Regions from separate parts of the Homo sapiens genome. Here region 1 is linked to region 2. The links come from fine-mapping of genetic effects on gene expression. A gene starts in region 2. The other region holds a variant in brackets. All regions are shown on one strand. Distances are between the middles of the regions.

Region 1 (4,385 bases), 25 kb before region 2:
GAATTGTGACCAATCAAGCAAGACCCAGTTTAGTTAAAGTCCCATCCACCTTACCACCATGTCTAATGTGTGCCAGGCACAGTGCTAGGCACAGGGGCTGAAGAGGGGCATCTAGGTCCAGCTGGTAAGACCCGAGTCTGGCTGGAAAGGCAGCCGTTGTGGGCTGCGGGATCTCTCCCCCAACCCTCAGTGTCCCACTGGCAGGCACTTACTTTCTTTGGGCACAAAGGGGATGAGACGGCTTCTGATCTTCACCTGAGCAGGCTGGATCTGACATTTGCCAGGTGGTGCCCGCCTGCCAACGACACACAGGAGGTTATGAGTCTCACCCTGGGAGCCCACCCTGAGGGTGCCTTTTCTCTACAGTGAGGCAGGTATGAACAGCAACGATAGTAACAGGCGGCCATTCACCATGCACCTACTGTGTGGCCTGCAGCTTCCCTGCCCACTCCATGCCCCCAGGATTCTAAGAGCTCCAGGGCATAAATCCCCTATAACAGCCTACCGGCTGCACGCTCAGCCTCTGCTGGAATAGCACCAGGGCTGGAGGCTTACTCTTTCCCAGGACATTTCTAATCCAGAGCATGGACTCTGTCCTCAGGGTGTGAACAAATGCCAGTCTCTCTCCTCCCACAGCCTGCCGTCTGATTCCTGAAATGCAGCCTGATTCCTGCCCGCCACCCTCTCCCACCAGCCCTACAGCCTTTGAGGAGGGTCTCTCTCTGCCCCTCTGGTTCCTGGATTTCTGATGCAGGATCTGAGAGGCTCCTCTGCCTGGAACCACCTAAAGGACGGGGGCGGCGGGGGTGGTAAGGAAAGCAAGCCTTGTGCCTGGAGGCAGAGCTGAGGGATTTGGGGCCTTGGCATGTGGGGTGTGAGAGAGCAGGGAGACAAAAGAGTCAGAGAAGGGTGCCAGGGCTAGGAATTGGGTCTCCTTTGACATTTTTAAGGGCACAATAGGGAATGGAATTCCGTTTTAATTAGTTTTTGGCCGTCGATCTGTGATTCTTTGGGAATGACCCCATTCCAGGACAGACCCACGTGGGCCCACGACTTCAATAGGATTCCAGTGGAAAGGCCAAGGGGTGAAGCAGCCACGTGACACGGAGTGGCCTCCAGACAGGCTTGGCCGAAGAGGGACACAAAAGAGGGACAAGGGTCTTTGTCCCCAGAGGCTGCAGAAACACAACCAGGCACATACGCTTCTCAAAGCTGCAGGAAAAGCGAGGTTTTTTTCTTGCTCTGACCTCCAGAGAACATCCACACACTTCAGACAGACCCAGTGGGGCTTTTGTTCCTTAAGGAAATTGCATTAAAAGTCTTTGTTATGCAAAAGGGTAGGATATCCACCCCAAAATGCCACAGTGGTTACGTGTGGGTAGTAACAGATGACCTGACCCTACCTCCTCCACTCCCCATTTATTTCATTTTCCAAATGTACTATAATGGGACCTCTGTGTAATATGTGTGGGTGCAAAGAAACAGTTATTCCAAGACAGGAGAATGAAGGGAGAAGGGTCAGGGCGGGAGGAGGAATCTAGCCCACTTCTGGCTCCTAACACAAGACCGTGAGCGAGAGAACTCCTTAAGTCTCGTTGGGGTCCCTCTCTATGACATGGGGACAACAAGCCAATAGGGAAACGGGATTGGAAAAACCGAAGATGATGGCTCTAAGGCAACATCTGGCATGAATTAGGCACTCACTTGGTATATGTAGCATTTCCTCAGAGGAGCATTCTTTTTTGAAAATTGGAAATAACCTAAAATTCCAAGGAATGGGTTATAGTGACTCAGCAGAAAATCAAGCAGCCATTAGAAATGGTTTTTTGGAGGGCGATGTTTGCAACGTTTAGACAAAATGGGCATAAATGAAGGAAAAAGAACCAAGTCTGCGTGTGATCCAAATACAACCACATAAATCCTGGCGCTGCATAGATAACAATGGATGGGACCTCAGGGAAATGAGAAGGAAGGGATGGAAGCAGGAAGTGATTATGTTTTATTTGATAAAAAGTCATGTCAATAATTTATGTGTGCTCTTAAACAAGAAAAAAAAAAGTCTGGTAAACAAGGAAAGTGAGAAGCTGACACAAACAGGGGAAAGCTAAGCAGACGCAACCACTAAAGGCAACACAGGATCCTGGAACAGGAAAAGGGCATTGGGGAACAACTAGAAACATCCTTTGAAAAAGAGTGTGGAGTCTGGGCGTGGGGGCTCACACCCGTAATCCCAGCACTTTGGGAGGCCGAGGTGGGCCGATCACTTGAGGTCAGGAGTTTAAGACCAGCCTAGCCAACATGGCAAAACCCCATCTCTACTAAAAATACAAAAATTAGCCAGGCATGGTGGCAGGCACCTGTAGTCCCAGCTAC[T/G]CGGGAGGCTGAGGCAGGAGAATCACTTGAACCCGGGAGGCAGAGGTTGCAATGAGTTGAGATCATGCTACTGCGCTCCAGCCTGGGAGACAGAGCAAGACTCCGTCTCAAAAAAAAAAAAAAAGTAAAAGACTGGAGTTGTAGAGTTTAATTAATAGTGATGGACTGATACTAGTTGACTAATTTTGACATGTACACTATGGTAATGTGAGGTGTTCATAATAAGGGACACAGGGTAAGGGGCATACAGGAAACACTGTAGTTTTTACAACTTATCTGTAAATCTGAAACTATTCTAAAATGTCTTTTGTTTTGAGATAGGGTCTTGCTCTGTTATCCAGGCTGGAGGGCAGTGGTGCGATCATAGCTCACTGCAGCCTCGACCTCCTGAGTTCGAGTGATCCTCTCACCTTAGCATCCCAAGTAGCTGGGACTATAGATGTGCGCCAGCACACCAGACTAATTTTTTAATTTTTTGTTGAGATGGGGTCTTGCTATGTTGACCAAGCTGGTCTTGAATTTCTGGGCTCATGAAACTCTCCGACTTCAGCCTCCCAAAGTGCTGGGATTACAGGTGTGAGCCACTGAGCCCAGTGTAAAAGATTTTAAGCACAATAAGTGTTTTAGAATTTTTCTTTTTGTAAAATTAATTAATTTTTTTAGAGACAAGTTCTCCCTGTGTTGCCCGGGCTGGACTTGAACTCCTCCCATCTGCCTCCCAAGAACGTGAAACATGCCAGCTTGTTTCAGGATTTTCCCAAACCTGGTGTGTCTCAAAGTTTAGGGTAACTAAACACAGTGGGGACTCCTAGAGTCTGCCAAAGGTGTGGATTCTCGGAGTGCAACCTCAGGCCTTGCGTTAGAGACAAGTACAAGCTGTGTCCGTACCCAGTGTTGAAGAGACGTTCAGACTGCTGTGGAAGCCAGCAGAGAAGCGAAAATCTAAGGGCTGAGAAGCAGCTTAGAAAGCTGATCACTCATTTATTCATCAAGTGTTCCTGAGTCTCTGCTCCGTGCCATTCCCAGCACCTGGGCGGCCTCTGCAGAGTGAAGAGATACAGGCTTGGCCCTGAGACTCCCAGAGCAGCTGGGAGAGAGTCAGTCGTGTAGCCCAGGGATTACCAAGTCTGAGTGATGAGAGCTGAGGAAGGGCTGGACAGAGGCCTGGAGGGCAACGTGGGTTGGGGAAGGTGCTTGAAGAGGGTGAGGTGAAGGCACACAGCCAAGGGGTTAGGGCAGGGCTCTGGAGCCAGTGGCCTGGGCCCCACCCTGGCCCTGGGCCCCAGGCCCATGACTTCGTGTCTTTGTGCTCATTTCCACCACTGTAAAATGAACGGCTGAGACGTCAATGAGCTGCACACGGAAGGAGCTGGGACATAGCCGGGCATGGCGCTTCTGGCCTTACAGCTAGAAGGGAAGCCGGGGAGATGGAGCCGGCGAAGGGAGCCCCAATGTGTTTTCCCCAGTGGAAGATGGACCACAGGAGGAAGGGCAGGCACGGGGCGGGGACACACAGGGATCAGGGTGTCATCTGGGAGGCATCACAGAGGCAAATTGGGGGCTGGGGTGTGGGGGTGCAGGGGCAGCCCAGGAAATGAGGAATGAGGGGCCTGCTAGACAGGAGGAAGACGCAGGGAGGGCGGGCCAGGCAAGAAAGCCAAGTGAAGCCTCGGCCCGCGGCCCCAGTCACCTCTCCAGCTCCCTCCTATCCTAATAGACCTGTGCTTTGAGGCGTGCAGACCCGGGTCTGAATCCTGGGTCTGCCCCTTGCCGGAGGAACTGAGGCAAATCACGTCCCTCTCTGGGCCTCAGGGTTCTTGTCTGAAAATGGGGATTAATACCACCCACCTGAGGGCGAGGCGGAGGGGACAAGCCCGTGGAGCTAAGAGGCCTGACAGACAGCAGGAGCTCCCTGTCCTGGAGGCTGGGACTCACCTGGATGCGTCAATTATTTTGTAGACAACTCCGCGTGGAGCTGTGGCACTCGGCTCCCCTGTCGACATGAAGTACAG
Region 2 (4,385 bases):
AGAGCATGGTCCTCCCGCCAGCATGCTCCAGGAGGCCCCGTCAGTGAAACCATAACCCAGCCTCAGCCGCCGTCTCTAAGCTCACTCCAGACATGAGGTCACTCTCAGAGACGCCTGGGCTGAAGTGTTAGTGGTCACTCCTGCTAACTGCTGGTTGCTTAAAGCCAGGCTGTCCTGGGAAGTTTCCCAAGAAACCTGCCAGGGGACAGCATCAGGACTGACCCTTCCCTTCCTCCATCCACCTGCCCACCTCACTGCCGTGCTGAGCCTGGCACATAGCAAGTGCTCAATAGACAAATGTGGCATGGATGCAGGAACTCTGCTATGTGATGGGGGTAGGGAGACCAAAGGACCTGGTCCTGAGGAGCCCCCAGGCTGGTGAGGGAGGCAGACGCTTGGCCAGACCATTCCCGTGCCCTTGAGGTGTACAGCATGGGAGTCCAGCAGAGCCCACCTAAAGGTGGCCAGCCCACCCTCTGTTGCATTCTGGAGCTCCCCAGGGCCCCCTCCTCATCCTCCCAGAGTCTACTGCTTCCCACCTAAGATATGAGCTCGCTTCAGCGAGTGTGGTCCATGTCCCCACCTCAACCACCGCTGGGCTGTGCGACCACTGGGCAAGTCCCTGCCTGCCTCTGAGTCTTCCTTGATTCGGGCTCCAAGCCTCACCTGGACCCTTCCCAGGGCTGGGCAGCCAGTGAGGGCCAAGGAAGCCCTCGAGAAATCCAACTGCAAACACTTACCGAGCCCCTAGTATGTGGCATTTAATCTGCATGGCCACCCAGGGGGGTGGTTAAGGTTTTATTTTATTTATTTTATGTATCATATTATATCATATTATATTATATTATATTATATTATATCATATCATATCATATCATATCATATCATATCATATCATATTATATTATATTATATTTTTGAGACGGAGTCTTGCTCTGTTGCCCAGGCTGGGGTGCAGTGGCTCAATCTTGGCTCACTGCAACCTCTGCCTCCCAGAGTCAAGTGCTTCTCCTGCCTCAGCCTCCCGAGTAGCTGGGATTACAGGAGCTCCCCAACATGCCCAGTTAATTTTTGTATTTTTGTAGAGATGGAGTTTCGCCATGTTGGCCAGGCTGGTCTCGAACTCCTGACCTCAAGTGATCTGCCCACCTTGGCCTCCCAAAGTGCTGGGATTACAGGCATAAGCCACCATACTCAGCTTCATTTTAAAGATATTGTGAGGTGCAGCAGTGACCTGCCCAGGTCACGAAGCTGGGGAAGTGACAGAGCCAGGATCAAACTCCAACTCCAAGTCAGCCTTCTTGCCCTTCCCCACACCACCTGCCCCTGCTGGCCGAAGGCTGGGACACGGCCCTGGCCCCTGGGGCCTCTCCACCCCAGGCCTCTCACTGCCCAGATGCTGAGGCAGGAATGCCTTGGGGCTGCCCGTCCTGCTCCATTTCTGCATTCAGCCAGGCAACATTTGCCCACTTGGGTGTGGTCAGGCCCTGGGGCCTCAGACTCCCACAAGAGGAAAACAAATAGCGGTGGCACCACCAGGTGTGCACAGAAGCAGGGGCTCCACCCTCAGAGGGAAGATGGGGGGCCCAGGGGCTTCAACAAAGAGCTGTCGCTCAGTCTTGAGAGAGCTTCTGCAGGCCAGGGCGCCATCCCCAGGAGAGGGCACAGCACCCACAGAGGTGGTGGCGGAAGTGGCAAGGGCATCAGGATGGGGGTGAGACGCTCGTGGGGGACAGTGGCCCCAACCCCCTCAACAAACCCGGGCCACACGTTGACCACGCCCACGCCAGGGCCCCCTGCTTTCACTGCCCCGGGGACAACACAAAGGAGCACTGACCGGGACAGATGCCTCTCCACCTTGGTACCCCGACAAGGGTGCAGCTGCTCGGGGTGGGACGCTGAGGGGTCGACTCCAGGGGACTGGGGCAGAAGAGCCCCCAACCTCTGAGGAAATGATGACATCATCTGTCCGTCCGTCCGTCCTTCCTGCTTCAGGAGGGGAAACTGAGGCCCCGAGAAGGCCCAAGTCACAAAACTAATGAATGGCAAAGCCAAGAGTCGTCCTGGGATGCGCGGTCTCCCCGCCCCGTGCCAAATGACTCCCTGTTGGGGCTTAGAGTTCCCGAGTCCGCCGCCCACTCTTGGCCCTCGCCCCCGCGGGGTTCCGATCTCTGCTCCAGGACTCGGCCTCCCGCGCCCCGCCCCGCCCGGTGGCCGCGCGCCCGCTCACCTGGCACAGCAGGTCCCTCGCGTAGCCGGCGCACGCGGCCCACTCGGCGGCGTCCACGCGGCTCGCCAGGGCCCAGAAGCGGCGGGTCAGCTCGGCGTCGCGCCCCTCATCGCAGCAGCCGAAGTCCGAGTACTGCGCGCAGAGGCGCAGCGGCTGCGTCGGCCGGAAGGGCGGCCTGAAGTCCAGGCACTGCGGATGCGCGGCGGCCCCGAGCACCCAAAGCGCCAGCAGCGCCCCGGCCCTGGCCCGGGCCATCGCTACGCCCCGCGGGGGAAGAGGCGGAGGGACGGCAGCCCCGGTCCCCTCCCGGGGCGCTCGCGGCGGCAGGGAAGGGGCGGGCGCTCCCCTTCCCTACACGCAGGGCCTCGAGTTTGGGGACCTCCCCTTCTAGGAGGTCACCTCTGGTCGGGGACACTCGGCGGGACTGAAGGAAGAGGGACGCGGCGCAGAATGCGGCACGACCTCTTTTAACCGCTTTCCAAATTCGATGGGAGTGGCCCGGTCTGTTTAAAGCCCCGGTGTGTTTTCCCGGTTCCGCCTGGGGCCCTGCTTCCTCCCCACAGGGCGCTCTTTAGCCAGGGAGGCGCAGGGCCAGAGGCCTGGACTCCTGGGCTTCGGTTCCACCTCCCACTGGGCTAGGGAAACGGATGCCCGCAGCCCGTCCCCGAAAGCTCCCACGTAACATTTTAAAAATGGGGGTGCGAGGGAAAGAACAGGGGGTGTTGCCCCAGGACTCTCAGGGAGAAGTGAAACCTGGCGTAGGGGTGGGGAGGGAGGACGGAGCAGTCTCCGCAGTCCACCCTTTGCCCTTACTGTGGGCTTCTTCCCAGTCTCTGCTCCTGGGGCAGCGGATTCTCCTGCAGCCCAGGACCCACTGGGGCTCCCCACTTCCACTCTCGCATAGGGAGCACTGATGAATCTACCTCCTGGGATGGGCATCCAGCCCTTTGTTCCGCTGCCCCCGCTGGAGATTCAGACCCAACCCCGCCCCACCCCCCCACACACATACAGACGCACACACGCTGTCTTACCTACCCCAGAATCTCATGGCACCAAAACCACCCACACAGACAAACACACACACACTGTCTCACCTACCCTAGAATCTCACAGCACCAAAACCACCCAGGCATTTTTCTCAAGTGGACCTCAGCGTTTGCTTCTCCCTGGAGTGTCCTTCCCCATCTTCTCTGTCCAGTGAGCTCCTACTCCATCTTCATGGCCCCAACGCACACATCCGTCCTCTGCAGGTCTCTTTGGACTGTCCTGGGGGATCATGTTTCTGTCTTTGGGCCCATGCTCCTGGCAGAGCTGGGGGTGGATGAGATGCGGCAGGGCTGGAGCACTCAGAGGTCTGTGGCTCTGGCCTGAACAGGTGCAGTGTAAGAGTCAGGGTCTCCGCACAGCCAAACATCTCTGAGTATTTGAAACACGGGGAATTTAACGCAGGGACTTGAAGCCAAAGAGGCTAAGAAGCCATACAGGGCTCAGTGAAGTAACCTTGAGATCAGCAACAGTAGGAACAGTCCCCAGGTCCTTGATGCAGGAAGAGCAGATGTTACTGGAGCCAAGGAGCTATGGTCACCTTGTCAAAGCTGGACCCTCACAAGGCCTGTCTGGCCACAGCTGGAGATAGCCACTGTCAGAGATTCTGCACAGACAGAGGAGGAGAAATACCCCGGCTTCTCCCTGCCACTTCCCCTCCAACTCCCACCTGTGGCTTTCATTGGCTGAACCTAGCAGAGGGCTGCTAGGGTGGGAAATGCGGCCTGCAACGGCTTCCTGCACAGACAGCTGGGAATAGGCAGAGCCAGGATGGAATCGGAGGGCACGATGGCGCCTACTTCCCAGCTGGGACTCAGAACTGGGTGATAGTCACACATCAACACAGGGCTCCAGATGAGTGTACAGAGGTGGAAGTGACACAGAGCCTGGGCCACAGCCATGAGGTTTGGGCTCCTACAGCCACAGAAAATGTCAAACACAGCCCAGCCCCAGCCAGAGTAACATAAATCCTCACCCTAATACCTATTTACCTCGGTTTCTGTTATCTAGTACATCCTGATTGGCTTTCCAGAAAAACAACAAGGCATGAAAAAAAGATAAGAAAAGTCACAGTCAGGAGCCGGGCACAGTGGCTCACGCCTGTAATCCC

Which allele goes with the higher level. Alleles are on the strand shown, and positions count from the first base shown. SD is a standard deviation of normalised expression in the study named.
With allele G in place of T in region 1, the expression in spleen of the gene that starts at base 2,564 in region 2 is lower (moderate effect, 0.41 SD a copy in GTEx).

The links.
Region 1: its variant is fine-mapped to the expression of HHIPL1 in spleen (GTEx, PIP above 0.99).

Annotation. Positions count from the first base shown.
Region 1 is chr14:99,668,227-99,672,611 of GRCh38, reverse strand. HHIPL1 (HHIP like 1) reads right to left here. Exons shown (of 9, transcript NM_001127258.3): 7 at 4,309-4,385; 8 at 213-295. Among named protein-coding and RNA genes, the nearest start is that of CYP46A1, 14 kb to the left of the region's middle. RefSeq lists enhancers at 251-850, 851-1,452, 1,453-2,052, 2,994-3,535. The variant T/G (reference allele first, on the strand shown) is at 2,374.
Region 2 is chr14:99,643,308-99,647,692 of GRCh38, reverse strand. It overlaps HHIPL1 (HHIP like 1), which reads right to left and starts at 2,564. Exons shown (of 9, transcript NM_001127258.3): 1 at 2,231-2,564. The coding sequence starts at 2,485.